Regions from separate parts of the Homo sapiens genome. Here all the other regions are reported to be linked to region 2. The links are microRNA targets in miRTarBase. Many come from high-throughput screens and were not tested one by one. Region 2 holds a microRNA gene; each other region holds the end of a gene's coding sequence.

Region 1 (3,096 bases), not on the chromosome of region 2:
TTCTAAGCTTGTGTCCCTCCTTGCTTGATTTGCTTTCCTATCCTCTTCTCCCTACCCGGGGCACATCACAAGCTTAATATTTAACATTTAATTAAGTGTTAACATTTTTAGCATAGAAGAGGAATACCTAAAAAGCTAACTGAGGTGTTTATTTATAAGCAAGAGATGAGTGAGCCATAAGTTCTCCTTGCCCTCCCAGAATTGGCGTTGTTTTTCTACTGGGATGTGGCTCAGTTTGTAGATGAATGTGGAGTGTAGAATGGTGATGAGAGAGAGAAGCTGGGATATGTGGGTGGACACGCAGGGCAGGTATGGAGTCCTTTGGGAATTTTAGCGTGGCAAGTATTTGAACTTAAAGTGAAAGATTGTAAGAAATGTGTTTATGTTTCTTTGTTATCCTAGGTGCTAAAGGAAGCTTCCCAGATGAACCTCCTGGCCAGGGTGTGGTGGTACAGGCCATTTCAGTACTTTGAAAAGAATGTCCAAGGAATTGTACCTCGATCTTACCATTGGCCTTTCCCCTGGCCAGTAGTCCACCTCAGTAGGCAAGTTAAATACAGCCGGCTGGTGAATGACACATAACAGCTGTACAAAGTGGGGAAAAGACAAATTGTCCGAAGTGCTAAGAACTCCATGAGAGAAGATGCCATAAAATAAACACCTCCCTAATCCTATTATCTTTCAATGGTTACCTTGACTTAACCTATTGAGTTACCTGGTCAGCACTGTGATCTTTTTTTCTCTCCAAAGGACCTGCGTTGGACAACAATAAAGAAAAATTTAACCTATCATGCACTGTACACATTTCCTGTTCATAAGTTTGGGATTTACATAACCCGCAACCACCATGTTCCTTTGTATATGATGCAGCAGCATAAATGTAAGCTTTTATATCATAAGTTCTGGTCTTTCCAGTCACATCTGGAAATAAAGCGTATTATTTTCTTGGGAAAACATACTTTTCATATCTCTTGCCCCAAAGATTGGGCTGTAAGCCATTTTCTAGCAAATGTCTCTATGAAGGTTTCTAAGTACCTGAATGGGGTTTGATTCTGAAATCTTTCTACCTGTTGCACCGATATTCAAATAAAAATGATAGACACAGAAAGGTTTGGTAACTTTGGGTTTTGTAAAATCAGCAAAGGCAGTGTTTCAAAAAGTGCAAAAAAAAAGATTCTGTTATAAAGTGATTTTCTAAGTATTTCCTAACTTTATTTTTCAAAATGATGTTATGAACACCAAATTTAAAGATTTTTAACATGTCAGAGAGAAGAGAGTTAAAATTTAAAAATGCATCTTGGGAGAGAAATTTGTCTATGTTTCTAGTGCCTTTCTTGTCTTGATTGTATGGTCAGTAGGCAATCTTAAATGTTTTTATTTAAAATAAAGTATTCCTTGAAAATATAAATATATGTATACACTACTAAATTTTGCATTTATAGCTAAATTGAATCAGAAGACTGCTTATGGTTTTAAAATTGCAATGACTTAAATAATGAGGTTGTTAATTAGAGTCAGAGCCTGTTCACATATTGTGATCAGGTAGCAATGACATGTACCACTTAAATTATTTTATCGTCGATTTGGTAGTTCAATTTTAACTACTCAATGAAAACAGCCATGAATATCTTTTCTTAAAGAGAGTTTTGAAAATGATCACTTACCTAAAACTTGAAAGCTATGAATTAGTTATCCATACTCTCATGACAATTTTGTTGGTGAACAACAAAAAAGAGATCTATTTCTTTAAAAGATATTTGTGCAGAAACTGCATGTAACTCTAAGTTTTACTCCTAACATACATATGTTTGGGGAAGTATTCTATTCTATACTTGCCAATGTGGAGAACAAAATAGTTTTTTAAGAATGAAGAAGTATATATATCCATTCTGTATTTTACGTGCAGCAGAATTATCTTCCGTAGGATTTTTTTGTGTATTCACAAGGTGATATTTGTATTGTAAAACAATAATGGTGAAGGAAATAAAAAGGCTTTTAAAATTTTGTTTGTTTTAAATCTTTGTAAAGTTATTATTCCAGAGAGTATACTGGTATCTTACAGCTTACCTAGATCATAAATTAATCAAAATGCACTTTTTAATAAAAACTGATACTTAAAATAAATGGCTGTTATTTCTACTGTGTTCACATTCTTCACAGAAGTCATAAATGGAGCCATTAAAGCAAGATAGAAAATCAGTTTCAGAATTTCTTCATGGAGTGTTTCTGCTTGACATGGGACTTTTAATAATTATCTGGATTTTTTTCCTTGGGATTCCTTAAAATATATTCTAATCTTTAGTAAATTCTAGAGAGTTTTTTAATATATAAAAAGAGTCACATGTAAGTTAAATTCAAACTTTAGAACAATGTTTACTAACATTTTGAATTCTCTAATTCTCAACCAAATTGTTTTTTTTCCTATATCTGGCAGTAATATAGCTTCTCCAGTGTAGATGGAAAGGAAAAGTAAATCCAAAGTGAGAAATAGAGTAATAGTACTATGATAAACCAGTGGTAATGGAAAATAACTATTTAAAAAGAATAAAAGGTTATTATTATTTCTGATGTGGTGACTAAAGGAAAATGTCAACAGTGGAGATGTGTCTTTGATAAAGGATGTGTTAAGGAGGCTAGAAATGTAAAACCAGAGGCCAGGTGTGGTGGCTCACGCCTGTAATTCCGGCACTTTGGGAAGCCGAGGTGGGCTGATCACTTGAACCCAGGAGATTAAGACCAGCCTGATCAATATGAAACCCAGTTTCTACAAAAAATACAAAAATTAACCTGGCACGGTGATACATGCCTGTGGTCCCAGCCTCTCAGGAGACAGGTGGGAGGAGCGCTTGAGGCCGGGAGACAGAGGCTGCAGTGAGCCATGACCGTGCCACTGCACTCCAGCCCCAGCAAAAGAGTGAAACTCTATCTCCGAAAAAAAAAAAAAAGGAAATTAGAACCAGTAAAACTTTTCCTGTGTGGGGCTTTAAACTTGTGTATCAGACAGGGGAAATGTGGTGGCCTCTTTAGGCAAATAGAGCCAAACCCTTGGATAGGTCTTTATTTAACTGTTATAGCCTTTCACTAACTTTGACTATC
Region 2 (3,096 bases):
AAGAAGATTTGAATGACTGTGACTGGGCACGTAGAAACCTTTTGCACCGTGTCAGGTCTTGATGGTAGAGGTGGTCATCCAAGCATGCCTGGGGTCAGGCTCCTTGGAAGTTCAGCTCCAACCCTGTATTCCAGCTGGGACGGTTGGAATGTTAGACACCTCAGTCCCTCCTGCAGGTTCAGGGCACACCTCTCTGTAAGAGAACAAACTGGCATGGTTGGTAGACATCATTTGCAGGCTTTGTATCCCAAGTCCACCCATCCATCTCACATAGTACCACTCCAGCTGAGTCCACTCAACTGATCAGTCAACTGGTCAGTCCATAGTACCACTCCAGCTGACGTCCTGGGGTGAAGGCTGCCTCCTGAAAGGCCTGCCTTACCCCCTTACCCAACTGCCACCCAGAAGAACATTCTCTCCAGAGCCTGGCCCTGTTCAAGCTTCCAGCAAGGACTGGGCCCAAGCCAGGCCTAGAATGATCTTCCATGCAAAAGACTGGGCGTGTATTTCCCCTAAGACCCTGACCAGGCCTGGAGTTCCAGTCTTACCCCAGGGACCCAATGTGGAAAGACCTTCAAACAAGAGCTTTTCAGAAGCTGGGGAGGTCTGCTCCTGCACCTGTCCAGCCATGACAGGATGGAGAGTTTAGGGATGATTCTCCAGCTCTGCACCCACCTGATCCTCTGATGGAGGGTCCAGTCCAGCTTCACATCTGTGCCTAATCAGTGGAAACACTTACCCTCTGGGCACCTCAACCTTCTCAACTGGAAAGTGGAGTGAGGCAGCAAGCTCCCTTTCCCCCTCCCAGGGTAGCAGGCTGGACCTGACCGATGCCCTTTCATCATTGCACTGCTTCCCAGCGGCCTATAGTAGTGCAACAGGGAAAGAGTGTCGGGCAGGCCTGCCAGTGCCTCCCCCAGGGTGGTCTGCAGGGATCTGAGACCTGGAATGCAGGCTGGCTGGGGCGGGGCCTCTGCCCGGGGGGAAAGGGTGCCCTCTGACCCCAGAGGCCCAGGCCTGTCTAGAATCTCAAGTTTCCATGGAGAAGGGAGCGAATTGGGTAGGGGGGAGGGGAGGGCCTGCAAGCCCAAGGGGCCCTGCCTGGGGAGTGGGAGGTGAGGGTTATAGGGAGGGAGATCCCCAAGGCTGGTCCCAGATGCTTTGACAATATCATTGCACTGCTTCTCAGAGCACAGTAGTGCAACCTCGTCAGAGCACCTGCGGCCAGCAGGGGGGACCCCACCACCCCCAATACACGCAGGGCGGGAAGCTCAACCATGGATGGGTGGGTGGGGCAGAGCCCCCGTCCAGTCCATCCGGGCAGGGAAGGAGACCGCAGCGGGGTGCGTCCCTGGGGTCTTCAGAACCCAGGACACCCAGGCCTTTCCCAGAACGCTCCGGATTGAGGTGGAGGAGAAACCCCAGACTAGGGGGTTGTTCCAATCCCGGAGCAGGAGCTGACGGGCCACGCAGGGGAGGGGGCGCACACACAAAGACGAACCCGCACTCAGCCGCAGTCCAAAGCCGGCTAGCGCCCGGAGCGGGGTGGGTACAGCCCGACGACCCTGCGCCCTGACTCGGCCCGCGGCTCCAGGAGAAAAAGGGCGGCCCCACCCCGGGACGACGCGCCCCTTCTAGCTGACGACTCCATCCCTGGCCCCTTGCCCTGCACTAGATACACTCTGGATTCTTTTCTAACATATTCTTCTGCCTGGAGGCCCAGAGTGGAGCAGAGGATGGGGGCTCCCCGCCCTTCTAGAGTTCCCTGCTCCAAAGAGGGCCCCCGGGATCCCGGCCGCGCCCCTCCGCCTGACCCGCCGAGTAGGGCCGCCCAGCCCAGCCCAGGATCCCCTCCTCAGACACAGCTGACTCACGCAGACATCCCTTCCGCCCAGGGCCCGGTCAGGACGCGGAGGGTTAGACGGAAGAGGATCCCGGCCATCGTCTGCCCCCGGGTCCCCGTCCAGACGACCCTGCACCTCGTGGCGGCCCCTCGCCTGCCGGCTCCATCTTTAACCCGCTGACAGTCGGAGGGGCCGGGCCCCCGACTCCTTAGCATAGCGCTGCGCTCATTGGCCGGCGCTGGCGCGGGGATTCGCCTCCTGCATGCCTGTTGGCTGAGACGGGAGAGATTTCAAAATAGCCTCCGGGTTCCGATTGGCCCGGCGCCGGCCGAGTCTCGGGCTCCGTGGTTTTAACAATGAGTTCTACAAACACTTTTTCCCCATTCATAACTTATCAAAAGGAACTTTGCCCGCCTTTTCTCAGCTCCAATCTCTGCGAGTTTTCTAGCGACACCGACAAGAGCGCTTGGAAGCCCGGTGAGGGGCGCCAGGCGCGAGCCCACAGTGGGGGAGGCCGAGACCCTGTGGAAATTCCCGAACCCCCGCCAAGCCTGCTGTGAACGCGGCCGCGGGCTGCTTTGTTATGCATGCTGAGGTTGCTCTCTGCGCCTCCTGGATGGGATATTTGGACGTGGTGGGCTTACAAACTGGGGTAGCCCCCCTCCCAACTCAACCACCCCGGATCGCCCGGCAGGACGCGAGTGAGGCTTTCCTGAAAACCCCCGGGTATGGCTGGGCTATGGAGACCGGGTCCTGGGCCCCGTGGTCTTTTGGATCTGTGGGAGATATGGGGAACGGAAGTGTAAGCTTTGGTTTCTTCGTGATTGTGATCCACTTTGCGGAGAAGCATTCATTAAGCGCCTACCCTTCGCTGATGACTAGGAAGTATATTGATCACCGGGCTGTTGAACGGCTCCTAGAGGGAAGGGAGGAGCTGTGCTTAGACAACTGTGCCCCTGCAACCCCTCCTGCTTTATTATCGGTCCAATGGCTGAGAGCAAATGTTTTTGAGGCAGGCAGAGGTGGTTTTGAATCTTTATGAACCCCTGTTGCCTTCTTGCAAAATTGAGATGGCAATCAAACCTGCCCCATAGGGCTGGCTGTTGCCAGCAGCAAATGAGATGCTGTGTAAATTGTTGGCCCAGCACCTGGCATTTAGTAAGTGTTCACTGAAAGTGAGTTCTGCTGCCACTACAGTTTTTATTTTTGGCCTTGTCCTGCATTCTGCCTGGAACAATCTTATCTGCTCCCA
Region 3 (3,096 bases), not on the chromosome of region 2:
TGGTTCAGCCACTCCATGTTCATGGGCTTCTACCTGCTCAGCTTCCTCCTGGAACGGAAGCCTTGCACAATTTGTGCCTTGGTTTTCCTGGCAGCCCTGTTCCTTATCTGCTATAGCTGCTGGGGAAACTGTTTCCTGTACCACTGCTCCGATTCCCCGCTTCCAGAATCGGCGCATGATCCCGGCGTTGTGGGCACCTAACGGCCTGCCCTGTTAGCTTTCCAAGGAAGCAGAAGACGGGAGGGGAGGCATTGACATAGGTCATAAAGCATTGGAGTTTCAAATCCCGCAGCCTCGCGGGTGTCACATTCCTGACGGCGCCTTTTTGGCCTGTGATGTTTTATCCTTACAATGTGAATAATGGCACTGACCGGTGCTTTTATTGTAAAGTCCTATAGTCGTGGGTGGTCTTGTGGTTGTGTGTGTTCTGTCCCCATCTAGGTCCTGGCTGGCCGCATGACCACCCCTCTCGCCTCATTACTGTGAGGAGTCTGGGTCCATCCTGGTCAGCTGCCCCAATGTGACCTGGGGCAGATAAAATGCCAGTCTCATTGTCACCTCTGTGACCCCTCCTTGTCAGGGTCTCCTTCCTTCCCAGAATGTTACTGACTCCTCAGTCCCTCTTCTGGTTTCCCTTTATTTCTCTTCTACCCTTTTCCTTTTTTGGGGAGTACCTGTCCAAGACAGGGCTCATTTTTGCACTTATCTCGAATTTGAAGAGATTGCTGACGCCCGAGAGCCTCGCTTTTTCATCCTTCTTTCCTTGTTCAGCAGGCTAGACAGAAACATGTCTTGACTGTTAGTTGTCCACAAATCTTCAGTATTTTCTCCACTTCATTTTTAAGAAAGGAAGCAACAGATAGATGTTGCTCTTTCACCTGGGTGTCTGGGCTCAAGCTTTCCCGCCCAGCCTCACTTCCTTTGCCCTTCCTCCTGCCTTTCTCAACTGTCCCAAGGAGGGGGCCTCATTGTGTCTCCCGTGCATGCTCTGCAGCATTGAAGTATGGTGTGTTCACGTAGTTCTAGCAGTCCCCAGCTGAGTGAGTGGGAGAGTACCTGTGTGTTTCGTAACGGCCTTGATCCCCTTGATAGATGTTTGGATATTTTTTGGTGTGCCCTGTGTGTGTGTGTGTACAAATACATGTGTATATTCCTTTTAAAGAAGCTTTATCGAACGTGGTCTGATTTTGAGGTTTAGCAATAGCTAGCTATATATGGTAGGTGCCGCTACAGTTTTTATTTAGCATGGGGATTGCAGAGTGACCAGCACACTGGACTCCGAGGTGGTTCAGACAAGACAGAGGGGAGCAGTGGCCATCATCCTCCCGCCAGGAGCTTCTTCGTTCCTGCGCATATAGACTGTACATTATGAAGAATACCCAGGAAGACTTTGTGACTGTCACTTGCTGCTTTTTCTGCGCTTCAGTAACAAGTGTTGGCAAACGAGACTTTCTCCTGGCCCCTGCCTGCTGGAGATCAGCATGCCTGTCCTTTCAGTCTGATCCATCCATCTCTCTCTTGCCTGAGGGGAAAGAGAGATGGGCCAGGCAGAGAACAGAACTGGAGGCAGTCCATCTAGGGAATGGGACTGTGAGGCCATACTTGTGAAACGTCTGGACTGCTATTCTAGAGCTTTTATTTGGTGTGTTCGTTGCACAGCTGTTTGAAATGTTTAATAAAGCTTTATAAACTTTACTTTGTGGTTTTATGTGGCTGCAGTCCATTTGGGTCGTGGTGTTGGATTTCGGAGTTGGTGGGGGGCAGGGGGAAGCATGGAGGGGCTGAGTCTTTGGCGCCAGAGTACCTTAGCCTGAAAATTTGATCTGCTTTCTGGAGAGCAGATGGTGGGGATGGGGGAGGGGGAGCAGGGGGCAGGACAGGCGGTGAACAGGAGGGAGTCTGAAAGTTTTCAGAGATGAGACATTTGCGTTTCTCAGCTCCCATGGCTTCTTGCCTGAAATTGTTTCCCTCCATAGGAGATTTGAGTAACCGATCCCTTGACAAACAACTTAAGACAGCTGGAGCTCTAATCATCAAGGATTTTTATGGTGCTGCTTTTGAAGTAAAAATAGTGAAACCCCTTATGGCATTTCAAGTGGAAAAATAAATAAGACTGGCTGTCCAACCAGCCGGATGTAAGGTGATGGCTGGAAGTGCCGAGAGTGGTGTGGTTCCATGTTGTAGGTATGCACGTGCTCCCATGGCCATGACCTTTGAGACAGTGTAGGCTAGTTTGTCAGGTCCTGTGCTGAGTATTCACCTCTGAATCTCCTTCTTCTAGAAAGCATGGTAGGAATACTGCCTGTCCAAGGCACAGGGCTGTCGTGAGGTTTTATTGAGTCACAGTCGTGAAGGGCTTTGGTAATTTCATAGAAGATCACCTGTTCTACCTAGGCTTTAAATTTGTTGCTATAAAATTGAGTATGGTTTTCTCCTGTTCACTTAAGTCTCCCCATTGTCACTTTATTCCTTTTTTCATTCAAAACTTGCCAAAGATTTGTCTATTTTAGAGGTATTTTCAAAGAACCAAACTTTTATCGATCATATCTGCTGGGTAATTTTCTTACCTGATTCTTTTATGCTTTTATCTCTGAATTCTTCTTTTCTGTGTTTCTGGATAGATTTCGTGGTTCTGCAAAGTCTTGACAAGCTGAGGAGTCATACCTGGAAAGGATGGTTTGTTCAACAAACATTGAGACCCTGTACTAGGCTTGCTGGGGATTTCAGGGGCAAGACTCAGACCTGACTCTTCAGGAGCTCATGATTGTAGCCTAGTGGGAAGACTTAACAAAATAGACAATTGCAAATTCCAAAAACAAAACAAACAAAAAAAAGGCTTTTGTGTCCCTACTCTCCTGTGGCGACACCTGGATGATAAATGAAGCCAAGATTATTGCTTATTTTGCTCTCCCTCGGAAAGCAGCTTTCTGTTTTAGGTCAAGCCCGCTTAAGAGTCACAAACAGGCCTCCCTCTGAAAGATTTGTGGCCCTTTCCAGCAGGGAGCCTGCAGCCCACCCCTTCCCAAAGTGACTGCCAAATCAGCATTCTGTCACCCCACAGTGCTTCCTACCTTGCCAGGCAACCACCCCCTCTTC
Region 4 (3,096 bases), not on the chromosome of region 2:
TACCATTAACAGGCCAACTGGACCCTAATTCGGTTTATGCATTAAAAGATTTAGGAAATACAAAGACATAGTCAAAACTGATTCTAATACTCAGTTGGGTCCTATACATGGCACTAGTAATGTCAAATTACTGGGTGGAGTGGGGCAAAGAGGGCAAATTCTTAGATTCTTTTAAGATTTCATTGTACATATCTCATGTCCAGTGTCCATACATTCAAAAATGTTGGTTTTCCAGGTACTTTACTGTTCTTTTAAACCTGGAGAAGCCTCTATGGCTTATTCCCTTAGAAGCAACAAATGAAATGATGTATAAAGCATCAAGTCAAAGATACAGAGAACTGGACACATCCACTAATTGTTATGACAATCAAAGAAGTCATCTCCGTAAATACCTAAGGGTTGTCTAAGGCTATAAAGGTCAATTTGAAAGCCAGTTAGGGATCCACCGTGTTTCATAAAAGTGTCTTACACTCATGTTTGGCTTTCAAGAAGTGATATGCCTACTAAAGCTGTTATTTTGAGACTATATGCATCTCAGAAGTAATTTTGAAAATAGAGCCAAAGAGCAGTTTTTCTTACCTTGTGGAGCAGAATGTTAACTAATTTCTCATTCATAATTTGAATCCAAAAAAGTTATGCAGTATGACATCTACCCTGAAGGAGCCGTTTTAAGCAAAACACAAAATGAAAAAATTCACTCATTGGAAAAACTGCGTAGCTGGTTTTTTCCCCAATGAAATGATTACAGAATTAACAAAGCCAGAACATCTTCAGAAGGCATGCATTTCACTTCCAGTTTAGAGAAGAACCTTAAGTCAATAAATCATGTCCAAACTACATATTAAAATGTTTATAAAAAGTAAGTTTTAACATTTATTTCTAGCTTTCCACATGTGTGTGCAGACAAGGAATAAGATTGCACGTAAGTGTAAGCAGTGCAAAAATGTGGAAGTGGAGGAGTCACAGATGTGCTAGAACTTTAAGAAATAAAGCAGTGAACAAAATCAAAATAAACAGGAAAAATGTAAAACTATGGGATCAGAATTAGGAAAGGTGAAGAATGGTAATGCCCTTGTTACTACAGAAGTTAAATCAGTGGCACAGATAGCACTTGTCAAACAAAAAACAATCCAATAGCATTGACTTTTATTCATTCATGTTAAGTCACCTGAAATGATATCTGTTGCATTTAAATGCTCATTAATGTAAATGGCTGAACAAATCCATTTCAATGGATACTCAATATCCCACATAGATAAGTCACTTCAACACAGCCTCATGACAACTCCCACACCAAAACAGTACTTTATTTTGCAAATTTTGACCCATTATTACTCCCATGTTGTTTTTTTTCAGCTGTCAAGTGTACAAGGTGAAGAGAAATTTCAGTTAGACAGGGGCTGCACCTGGAAAATAAATTTCTTAAACTCCATAAACACATTTCAAAACTGCTGGGTCCCAAAAGTCCATCTATGAACTCTAGGGCTGCCAGTATCATGTGCAGCACATTAAAGCTACACTATCCAAATAGCTTATTAATTCTGCATAAATCAGGTCAAGCAATGTGTCAACCTGTAACAGACTGTGCACTTTAACTGAACATGGCAAAATATTCACTCTTTCGAACTTTACATCATCATTTGATGTCAAACAATGAAGCAAATCCCAACAGTATATACAAAAAACAGCTTTGCATTTACAAAAGATTGTTTCCCATACTGATTAATCCAGGCAGCTAACTCATTGGTTTATGCAACTTTATTGAAGAAAAATAAATCAATTACTAGCAGAGCTATTAGTTGATCACTCATCCATTGACAACTTGCATCATTTATTCAGTGCTATATTAAACAGTGTATTGGAAGATAGATTAACTAATAGCTCCAAGCCTCCTAACAATTTAAATGAAAATTACAAAATGTTTGAGACCCTATTTTGGAATACAAAGGGTGTTTGACTTCCAATTTCCATTCTCTGTAGAACAAGAACAGGTCATTCCTTTATTGACATGCATAAAATACATCACATTTTCTGTTCTGCTGATGCTATAAATTCAATACCAATTCTCCAGCCACATCAGTTATGAGCATAAAGCATATCATGTAACCTCAAATCTCTAACAGTGGAAGGCTTAAACAAGAATGGATGCTGCTAGAATAATGCTGTATCCTTTGATGTGACAACTGAGCATCCATCTCCCTCCCCCTCAGATGATTTCTTCAGCATGTTAGAGCAGTGAGGAATGGTTTTAGTCTCATAACCAAGTTAGAGTGAAGACATTGGCCACATAATACACATGCTCCATTTTTTTTTTTAAAAATTCTGAGTCTTGGGCAACTGTTCTCTTGTAACTACTTTACAGTTTCTAAAAGCAGTTATTGTCCAAAGCTGGAAGAACTTAAGTCTTCTCAGATGAGCATGTGAATGAATGGAGGGAGGTAAACAAAAAATAAAATTAAAAAAGATGAGGTCTGATAGGGGAGCAGCCGGATAAGAAAATCAAAAAAGGAACAGTAATTTAAAGTTTATTCCAGCTATAATGCAGGTTATTCTGACTTTAAGGTAGCATCACATGGCATACTTCTGAGTCCATTCCCGAGATATTCTGTTGTACCTGTAAATAAAGATGTTATTTTTAAAAGTTAAAATAAAGAATTCCTAATACTTTAAATGGAAGGGAAAGATTTCCATTTTATCATCTCCAGACTCATCATGAAGTCATCTCTAATGACTATGATTAGAATAAAAGCCAACAAGGGAGAAATAGCACTGGTACTCAAAGCAATGTGGGAAATGAGAGCCTGATGCTCTGAAAGTAGTATTTTAAAAACAACTAAGAAAGCAGCACTGAAAATTGGGAGGCTAACAAAAATCAAAAGACCCTTTCTTTCTCTACCACCGAGCTCATGCTCTAATTTTAACGTGAAGAAATTTTTACAGTTCATTATGGACAAATGTTAAAATAGTATACACATTCTATCTATCCACAGAAATTTCCACCAAGGCCAGAACTAGGCTTTTACTAGAACAATTTTATCTGAATCCTAGAGTTTGGGAAATTACTTGGTCCTGGATATTACAAGAAAAAATGGCTTT
Region 5 (3,000 bases), not on the chromosome of region 2:
CAGATGATTCTTGTCATCTCAGTGCCCTTAAAGTAGTCCAAAATCCTAAAATTCAAAGCCAGAAATTCCACACCCATTTAGTAAGCACCTATATATACACCATATATTCTACTACACACAGATTATATATCTAAAATGGAAGGAAATCTTTCCTCTTGTGGGAAAGAGGAAGTGGAAAGGAGGTGTACATCCCAATACATCTACCTACAACTGAGAGAAATTAACTACTATTACCACCTCCCACACCATCATCTTTCCTCTCTCTTTGCGTAGCCTGAGCTTTCAGAAGCACAACTGCAAACATCTCTAACTGGTTCACAGGAATCTATTCCTTGGTCATGTCAAACAAGATGTTATTTATAACCCACACCTCCAACCCTACCTAACTTTGAGTGGATGGGGCAACAATTACGACAGACTCTGCTAAGTTTCCACAAATCATTGGTTTATTAGAAAGTTCCTTTCCCTCATTTTACAGCATATATATCTCTATCATATGTGATAAAGTTAAATACAATCTGTTATGCTTGTAAGTAAGGTTTATTTTTATTTTTACTTTTAAAATCACTATTCTGGAAGTTAAAGAAAATGCCCCTAGGAAGGCAAAGAGGCAGCCAGAGTATGGCTCAATCTACAAGCTAATGGGAAGCAGCACGAAAATGTTAATACTGTATTATTTATTTACATGGGCTGAAAGCAAAGAAAAATGAGTCCCTTCACTTACACAGATGATTTCATTTTTCCAGTGCTAGTTATCCAAGAAGTGATGCTTCTGAATCAGATGAGTACTGAACAGGTAGGAGGGTGGGAGGGCAGTCAAGAGTTGTGTTTGCCTGCCACTTTCTTTTCATAAACTTTACTCTTTTGAGAATTTGCGAAGGCAGGAACAGAGCCTTGGCCCAGGTAAGTATGGTTTTTCTTGTCAAGTGACCAACCAACCAATTCTAGCCACACGAATAGTTAGGAAAATGCCAAAGTGGGAATTGTTAACCTCATCAAAGGAGATGGGACCTGCAACACAAGCACCTTTGGGTCAGTGTGTTAATTAGGGCTGAGAGCCTGGGTGAAAGGCAAGAAGAGGGGCAAAAGAGGCTGAGGTGGTAATTCCTCTTGTCAGTGTCATGGGAGAAAAGAAACAAGGAACGTTTACTGTCTAAACTGAGCTGGGCAGAGGGCATGGAAACTATGAAGCAAAATATCTGTAAATGTGCTCACCTCCCAACAAAAGGAAGACTGTCCCAACTCATCCTCCAGCCTACTTCTACTTCCGTTTCTACCAACCCAAAAGGCACATTAAAAAAAAAATTGTCAGAGGGGGCTAAGTACTAGGAAGGCAAATGGACTGACTGCCTGGAACAAGGTACCCAGGGAAACCCAGGAATCCCCCCAGACAATCACCAAATCTCACTGCTTCCAGACAATAAAGCTGTTGAATCCCCTCCTTCTCCTCTGTGGGGTCTACCTGTTTCTCTGTGTAAAACAGCAAAAGTACATGAGGGAGACTGTTAAAGATGAGCATCCCTCAGAAGCCCCCAGCTGACTGCTGCCCATTAGCTCAAAAATCCCAATACTGGGGGCACTACATACTGCAAATTACTTAACATTTTGTCCCAGCAAAAAATGTTTTAACATTTTATAGTTCATAACTTCAAAAAATACATAAGTTTGGTAAAATATACATGCTTAGTCAGTTTTGCATCTAGCAGAAAACAAATATTTTATTTTTTGTTTTCATTTTATAACCTTTAGAGTTTCTTAATTCAACTAGGGCAAACATATTTACACAAAGCCACCAGAACGAGGATCACTTAAAGAGCTGGATGTAAAAAATATTATTGCAGTATACTACAAATATGGAACCTTTTTTATATGAGCTACAAAAAGCAGCATTTACGTTTATAGAGTTCAGTGCAATTTTTTACATTAAAAAAATCCTATAAATTAAGAAGGAAACATCAACACAACAGAAGAAAATATACCCTTCACTTTAGACACATGAGCTCCTCTCTGGGCCATACAGCTTTTATTCATGATAGGATCTTCTTTTCTGGGATATGGAGATGCCTCTTCTGGGATGAGGGATACCAAGATAACAGTGCCAAATGTGTGGCTCCGTTGATGTGGGAACTGGATGGAATTGCAGCCTGAGTTATATCAGGTTCCAGGTGAGACGCTTTCCACCTCACCTGGGATAACGTAACGTCACCAAAGATGGTCAAAGATACTACCCCAAAATGGTGGCACTTCCACCACTAGAACAGCTTGGCCTTCCCTGTGGCGCTGAGAAGGCAAGACCAGATGGGCCCACAGCAAGTGCTCTGGTGACAACCCACTGGCCAGAGGGGAGGAAAATGTTTTAAAATTTACAGAAGGGAAGAGCAGAGGAAAAAAGCAGAGGGAGGAGGGGATTATCTAAACTTGACAGTTTGGAGATGTTGCTGCAGAGGGGTGGGTAGCACTTACTGGTGTTCCCTAGCTTAGAAACACAGAAGAGGGAGGGACAAATTGAGAGGAGGACAGGAAAAAGAAATCCCTGATAGTAAACTGAAAGCAAACTTCAAATCTAAACCCACCCCTGCAAGCCAAAACTCAATTCTTTGGCTGTCAGACACTGCCCATCCCAGCTTCTACTTGCTGGTATTAATGGCTCAACACCCCCAAGGGAACATTTATGGGTCTCCTCCCCTGGCCCTACCTAGGATCCCATCCCCCAACTCACGTGCCATGGCTGGGGGGATGTTGCAGGTCCTGACCTGAGAAGATGGGGTGAAGTAGTGGGTGAAGGTGAAGTGCAGTGGCAGCTGCTGCAGCAGGCCGTGGAGCAAGTAGGGTGGGGTAGAGGGCAGCATGTGGGACAGGGTGAAAGGTGAAGGGCCCAGGATGGATGGCTGAGGCGGGAATGATGTGGATGGGATGGCTAGCGAGAAAGGTGGCAGGGTGGCCAGGGATGATTGAGTGAGTGAGGTGGGACAAAGAAATGGGGGTCAGATGGGGCTGGGG
Region 6 (3,095 bases), not on the chromosome of region 2:
CATTCATTCGCCTACTCATGTACTCATTTACCCCTCAGCCCTCACTCACCACTGTCATTCACTCACTCAGTCACCGTTCCATTCATTTATTCACCCGTTCACTCATTCATTCCCTAATTCACCCACTCATCCTTCACCCATTCACTCACTAATTTACACCAAGTCACTCCCACTCATTCAGATACAGGCTGGTCCAGCGACAAGATCATCTGGTAGTCAAAGTCTACACTCACACAAGAAAGAACAAGGCTCTTGGTTTCTGTGACCCAGGCCTCTGTCTGTGTGTCACCTTTGTCACCCGGTCTCCTGCAGTGAAGCCTTTCTGGTGCCAGCATGGTGGGAAGACTGGGCCAAACGGCAGGTAGAGCTGCCCCAGGAGCAGGCTGTGTGCCGGGAGTCCTCCGAGGAGCCTCTGCCTCCATCTTGCCTGCAGCACAGCACGGCCTTCCTTTTGGTGGCACCCATGTCCCCCGACAGGTGTGGCCCGGGAGCCAGAGAGGGACCTGATGCCATCCTGTGCTGTGTCCCTTCCCATCCACCATGTGCCAGGCCTGCTGGACATGGTACCCAACAGCTTCACACACACAATTCGCCCTTGGCCCCAGGCCAAGCTGCTGCAGCGTAACTGACAAGACACACTGATCTTTACATGTGGGTGTTTAATGAACGAGACCATTCAGCACTGGCTCACTTTTTGTGCATATGTGTTTTTTGTAGGGTTTTTGACGGGGGGGAGGTTCCTGTGTTAGTCTGTTTGGCATTGCTATAAAAGAATACCTGGCACTGGGGTATTTATAAAGAAAAGAGGTTTATGTGGCTCCCCGTTCTGCAGGCTGTACAAGCATGGTGCCCGCATCTGCTCAGCTTCTGGGGAGACCTCAGGAAGCTTCCACTCAACACAGGAGGCAAAGGAGGGGCAGGCATGTCACATGGTCAGAGCAAGAGAGAGAGGGGGAGGTGCCAGTTCCTTTAAACCAGCAGTCCCCAACCTTTTTGCCACCAGGGACTGGTTTTGTGGAAGACAAGTTTTCCACGGACGGGGTGTGGGGATGGTTTCAGAATGAAACTTCCACTTCCGATCATCAGGCATTAGATTCTCATAAGGAACACACAACCTAGATCCCTCGTATGCGCAGTTCACAACAGGGTTCGAGCACCCATCAGGATCTAATCCCGCCTCTGATCTAACAGGAGGCGGGGCTCAGGCACTCATGCTCACTCACCACCGCCCACCCCATGCTGTGAGGCCCGTTCCTAACAGGCCACAAACCAGTAGCAGTCCACAGCCTGGGGGTTGTGGCCCTTGCTCTAAAGAACCAGATCTCCCACAAACACCGAATGAGAGCTCACTCATCACCACGGCAAGGGCGCCAAGCCATATTCACCAGGGATCTGTCCTCATGACTCAAACCCCTCCCACAGACCCCACCCAGCACTGCGGATCACGTCTCAGCATGAGACTTGGAGGCAACAAACATCCAAGCCATTCACCAGGGATCTTCCGCCATGGCTCAAACCCCTCCCACAGACCCCACCCAGCACCACGGATCACGTCTCAGCATGAGACTCGGAGGCGACAAACATCCAAGCCATTCACCAGGGATCTTCCGCCATGGCTCAAACCCCTCCCACAGACCCCACCCAGCACCACGGATCACGTCTCAGCATGAGACTCGGAGGCGACAAACATCCAAGCCATTCACCAGGGATCTTCCGCCATGGCTCAAACCCCTCCCACAGACCCCACCCAGCACCGCTTTATCCTTAAAAACAAAACAAGGAATGTAAATGCAAAACTGCCGCGCGGCCTCGCCAGATTCCGGAAAACACCCGCATGTTCCTGTTCAGGGTAAACACGTGGACCCCTGCAGGCTCCAAGACTCAGAAACATTGGCACGGGCCCCCTGGGTCCCGGAAAGCACCCCCACGGTTCCTGTTCCGGGTAACCACATGGACCCCTGCAGGCTGCAAGACTCCGAAACGTCACTGGGACGTCCTTCTGGCCTGCAACCGTCTCCTGACCCTTGCAGGACACACCTTTCTCCAAAGCTGACATGTCACAGAAGTCGCCCCGTGAGTGTTGGGACCGTGAATGTGCAAGTCCCCGTGTTCTGAGCCGCACCCAGCGCGAGCCTCTCCCTCTCCCCAGCATCTGTTGCCCTGCCCCTCCCCGCCTTGACTGTGTCCTGCATGCACCTGAGCTGCTGTGGCTCCGGGACCAGGGGCTACCTCCACTGCCGCATGCTGCCCTGTGGCCCCTCCTCACTGGTGTGGGCTCCCCCTGTGCCCTGTGGCCCCTCCTCACTGGTCTGCACTCCCTACTCTGGCACTTCTCTTTCTAGCACTGCTGCCTTCTGCTGCTTGGCCTCCTGCGGGGAGCCGCGGATGCTCCCTGCTAAGCACAAGCTGCTTCCCCCCACCGGCCCTGTCCCCTCTCACTTCATGATGCACAAGCCAGGCAAAGCCTCAGCTTTTCCATTCGCTCCCGGCCTCGCACTGGGACAGCCTACAGCAGTCACCCCTTGAAGCCCCGGGAGGAACACCCACCCCAAGCATCCGGGCACTCCTTGCGCACTCCAGGGCCTCATTTTGGAATCAAAGCAGGTTTTATGGGTTACACAGACGAGCCTTAGAGCCAGGAAACATAGTGGCTTCAGATGTGTTCACCGCCATGTGGCATCGAGGGCAGAAGAGCAGAGGGCGCCTGGGCCTTGTCCACGTGTCCAAGGTGCACCACCTCCATCATGCCAGCACCTGCAGTCAGTTGCTGTTTGCTGTCGGAGGTGGGGGGTGGGGGCTGGGCTCCCCATGGGCACACAGCCGGCAGCTGCTCTGCTCCCTGCCCTGAGGTCGCGGGCTGTGGTGTGCTGGGAGCGAGGTGTGCTTGGCAGTGGCGCTAGGACGGGTGGAAGTGGTGGTGGTGGTGGTGGTGGTGGTGCTCGTGGTGGTGGTGGTGCTCGTGCCGCTGGATCACTGGCACCGCGTAGCCCTCTCCTGCTGGCGTGGGCGGCAGGTCCCGCACCACCTCGTGCTCCACTGTGGCAGGCTGAGCGTGTGGGGCCTTGAGTGGCGAGTGGCCCTCCCTGCCCTTTTGG
Region 7 (3,088 bases), not on the chromosome of region 2:
TTGCAGTGAGCCAAGATTGCACCACTGCACTCTAGCTTGGGCCACAGAGCAAGACTCGTCTCAAAAAACAAAAACAAAAACAAAACAAAACAAAACACCCTAGCAAAATGAAAAGCTTCTTCTCCAGAGGAGAGTAAGTATATGCAGAGGATGGCAGAAATTTGCTTCAAAATACTAAGCATCTGAATTTTGATTCTCCAATTAGGGCCAACCATAGGCTTCAAACATACTATCTGCCACGGACATTTCAAACACTTTTGGACCCCCGGGGTCACAGGGTTTTAGTGGCAGAGAAGCTTACGTGGAAGCTGGGACATATTACACAAACTTCTCTTGTCTGGGACAAGTCAAAGTTTTTGGGTCACTCATAAAAGTCAGAGTAGCACAATCGAAACAATAAGTTGCATCCAATATCAAAAATGGCACACTAAGCATTGTGACATTTTCTTTGCTTGTAGGGGGGTGATAAGCCCTATTTGTTCTATACCTTAGAAAATATATCACTTTAACTTAACACACTTAAGATATTACTATGGTGTATACCTGATGAATTAACATCTGACAATAGTTTGAATATGTATCCCCTCCAAATCTCATGTTGAAGTATGACCTCCAGTGTTGGAGGTCGGGACTATTGGAAGGTGCTTGGTCATGGAAGCAGATCCTTCATAAACATTGGTGTCCCCACCATGGTAATGAATGAGTTCGCACTCTTAATTCACACAAGAGCTGGTTGTTTAAAAGATCGTGGCATAAAAAAATTAAAAATGCATGGAAGTATAAAATGGAAAAATGCCTGCAAACACTCATTGCCAGCAAAGATCAGTAAAAATATTCATTTACACAGTATGTAAACACTCAAAAGAACATAAAACACACAAAGATATTTATTTGATTAGGTTATGAAGGCTAAAAAAAGCCACATTGTTTTTCTCCTTTTGTTATTGTGTCTATGTCATCATCTCATTGAGTTCATATTATTATAGGAATAAATGCAATTCACACAAATTCCTGTTCTTGAACACTTGTTCTTTCCATTTTAAAATGCAGTGACATCATCAATGTGGTCTTCTACTTTTTGGAGTTTTAGTGTCATAGGCATAGTTTCCTATCCTATGGTTTTCATATCAAACAGTTGCACCTTATACATTCTGGCATGTTCTGCTCTCCAAAAGACATATTTTTACTGCCAGCAATAAAGAGGAGGATTTAAATGTTACTCCTGCCCCCAATAATGAATATATTTGATGAAATTACCAAACTCCATTTTCTCTTCCTGTTTCATAGCGTTGGTGGAAGAATATTGGATAAGAAGGTTGACAAAAGCTGTCATTCAAATTTAGAATATTTTATACCAGAGAAGTTAAAAAAAAAAAAGAAATTGTACAGCAATTAAAAGGCAATCATACCAAGGCCTGCATAGAAATCACAAATCATGATCAATCTAGGATTGACTAAGAAAATTTCTGTCAATGTACATCTGGCACTTTAAAAGTGTTACTGTAAATCTTGCCTTAATACTGTTGAAAACACTTAATTGTGAAATATGCAGTGGTCTGTTATTGCAAAATTAACCAAACCTTTTCAGTCTATACTGTGAGAAAAACTACAAAAGATAATTAAATTTATACCGTATACAAGCAATGGACATTTCATAGAGCCACAAATAATACTCTGACTTCAGAGCACAGGATGGGGGGAAGCCAGGAGCCAAGTGCAATAAAATAATGTTCAATGAATATGATAAATCTGATCAAGAAAAAAATTTAAAAGAAAAAATAATAATATGCAAAATATTGCTATGGATTGCAGTACTGAGTTTACTCTGCATTTCAACTCATGTTTCCCAGAATTATTTTTTGCAGGCTTCCCTTTTTGGATACACAAAATTGTATCCAAATCCATACATATGTTTTATCCTTTCATTGATTTAACAAACAAGTACTGAACACATACAAAGTGCTAATCAATGTTAAGGCTGTGACGACTTAGCAGCAAAGACACATGTAGTTTACATTCTAGTGGACATCAATTTGGACATGTCCACCATTAGTCTGGTAAATTCATGAACTCTTACTCTTTCTAAGGCCTGTCTCCTGAATGATAGCTGTAATTATCAAACTTCTGAATGAAGCTTTATTGCACCATTTACAAGGATTCTCCATTATGGTGGTCCTGAGACTACTGGGGCATGCTGAGCTATGGCTGAAGCACTGATGTTATCTTAAACAAATGTTTTCCCTCTTCCAAGAATGGGTGAAATTTATCACCAGCATGGATTCAGAGATAAAATACTCAAAGGGAAGTGCTTACTATGTGCCTCATATTTTAATGTGTCTCTCCTTTGTGAACTTTCAGATGAGACTGCATTCATGAAGACTGAGTGAAGACTTTATTGCACCATCACATCACTAAGGTTTTTCTCCAACATGAACATTCTGATGAAGTCGAAGGCTTGAGGCCTGACTAAAGCACATATCACACTCCCTACACTTCCATGTTTTCTCTCCCATGTGGACCCTCTGATGCATATCAAGATTCAAGCGCCTGTTGTAGCCCTTCCCACAGTCCTCACATTTGTATGGCTTTTCTACACTGTGAACTTTTTCTTGCACTTTAGAGAATGAATTCTGTACAATGTTCTTCCCATGCTGCTCACATTTGAGAGGTGTTTCTCTGCTGTGGCGTCTCTGATGGGTCAGACGAGTTGAGGACCAGCTGAAGCCCTTCCCACACTCATCACATTTGTATGGCTTTTCTCCAGTGTGCACTCTTTGATGAGAATGAAGCTGTGAATTCTGAGTAAATCTTTTCCCACACTCTTCACATTTGAATGGTTTTTCTCCACTGTGCAGTCTCTGATGTTTCAAAAGACACGAGGCCCAGCCAAAACTCTTCCCACATTCCTTACAATTGTATGGTCTCTCTCCTGTGTGGACCTTCTGGTGCATATCAAGATTAAACTTACTATTGTAGCCCTTTCCACACTTCTCACATTTGTATGGCTTTTCTCCAGTGTGAACTCTCTGATGGGAATGAAGATGTGAATTTTGAGTAAATCTCTTCCCACACTCTTCACATTGGAATG

Evidence for each region. The annotated mature microRNA hsa-miR-130b-3p reads CAGUGCAAUGAUGAAAGGGCAU and lies in region 2 at 831-852, opposite strand. An mRNA with a match to its seed (bases 2 to 7 or 8) in the 3' UTR can be bound and repressed. Matches are read on the target gene's strand: a 7mer-m8 pairs with bases 2 to 8, a 7mer-A1 pairs with bases 2 to 7 and ends in A, and an 8mer does both.
Region 1: miRTarBase lists SGMS1 as a target of hsa-miR-130b-3p. The part of its 3' UTR that is shown has no 7-base or 8-base seed match.
Region 3: the mRNA of BLCAP is a reported target of hsa-miR-130b-3p. Seed matches in the 3' UTR shown: 7mer-m8 at 697-703.
Region 4: the mRNA of UBE2D3 is a reported target of hsa-miR-130b-3p. Seed matches in the 3' UTR shown: 7mer-m8 at 935-941.
Region 5: the mRNA of GPATCH8 is a reported target of hsa-miR-130b-3p. Seed matches in the 3' UTR shown: 7mer-m8 at 1,908-1,914.
Region 6: the mRNA of NKD2 is a reported target of hsa-miR-130b-3p. The part of its 3' UTR that is shown has no 7-base or 8-base seed match.
Region 7: the mRNA of ZNF224 is a reported target of hsa-miR-130b-3p. Seed matches in the 3' UTR shown: 7mer-m8 at 1,714-1,720.

Annotation. Positions count from the first base shown.
Region 1 is chr10:50,304,628-50,307,723 of GRCh38, reverse strand. It overlaps SGMS1 (sphingomyelin synthase 1), which reads left to right. Exons shown (of 11, transcript NM_147156.4): 11 at 403-2,124. The coding sequence ends at 582. Among named protein-coding and RNA genes, the nearest start is that of ASAH2, 55 kb to the right of the region's middle.
Region 2 is chr22:21,651,110-21,654,205 of GRCh38, reverse strand. It overlaps MIR130B (microRNA 130b), which reads right to left and starts at 902; the gene lies at 821-902. MIR301B (microRNA 301b) reads right to left here and starts at 1,225; the gene lies at 1,148-1,225. It also overlaps the pseudogene LOC107985532. RefSeq lists enhancers at 1,512-1,561, 1,098-1,769, 1,770-2,440.
Region 3 is chr20:37,516,016-37,519,111 of GRCh38, reverse strand. BLCAP (BLCAP apoptosis inducing factor) reads left to right here. Exons shown (of 2, transcript NM_006698.4): 2 at 1-1,695. The coding sequence ends at 201. Among named protein-coding and RNA genes, the nearest start is that of NNAT, 3.7 kb to the left of the region's middle. RefSeq lists an enhancer at 1-517.
Region 4 is chr4:102,794,847-102,797,942 of GRCh38, forward strand. UBE2D3 (ubiquitin conjugating enzyme E2 D3) reads right to left here. Exons shown (of 8, transcript NM_181891.3): 8 at 1-2,614. The coding sequence ends at 2,569. The region is part of intron 4 of LOC102723704 (a long non-coding RNA gene); the gene reads left to right. Among named protein-coding and RNA genes, the nearest start is that of UBE2D3, 31 kb to the right of the region's middle.
Region 5 is chr17:44,394,853-44,397,852 of GRCh38, forward strand. It overlaps GPATCH8 (G-patch domain containing 8), which reads right to left. Exons shown (of 8, transcript NM_001002909.4): 8 at 429-3,000. The coding sequence ends at 2,716. Among named protein-coding and RNA genes, the nearest start is that of ITGA2B, 6.7 kb to the left of the region's middle. RefSeq lists an enhancer at 2,628-3,000.
Region 6 is chr5:1,038,175-1,041,269 of GRCh38, reverse strand. It overlaps NKD2 (NKD inhibitor of Wnt signaling pathway 2), which reads right to left. Exons shown (of 10, transcript NM_033120.4): 10 at 2,327-3,095. The coding sequence ends at 2,897. Among named protein-coding and RNA genes, the nearest start is that of MIR4635, 23 kb to the left of the region's middle. RefSeq lists an enhancer at 1,865-2,639.
Region 7 is chr19:44,107,608-44,110,695 of GRCh38, reverse strand. It overlaps ZNF224 (zinc finger protein 224), which reads right to left. Exons shown (of 6, transcript NM_001321645.3): 6 at 870-3,088. The coding sequence ends at 2,412. ZNF225-AS1 (ZNF225 and ZNF224 antisense RNA 1) reads left to right here. Exons shown (of 2, transcript NR_033341.1): 2 at 2,359-3,088. Among named protein-coding and RNA genes, the nearest start is that of ZNF225-AS1, 4.0 kb to the left of the region's middle.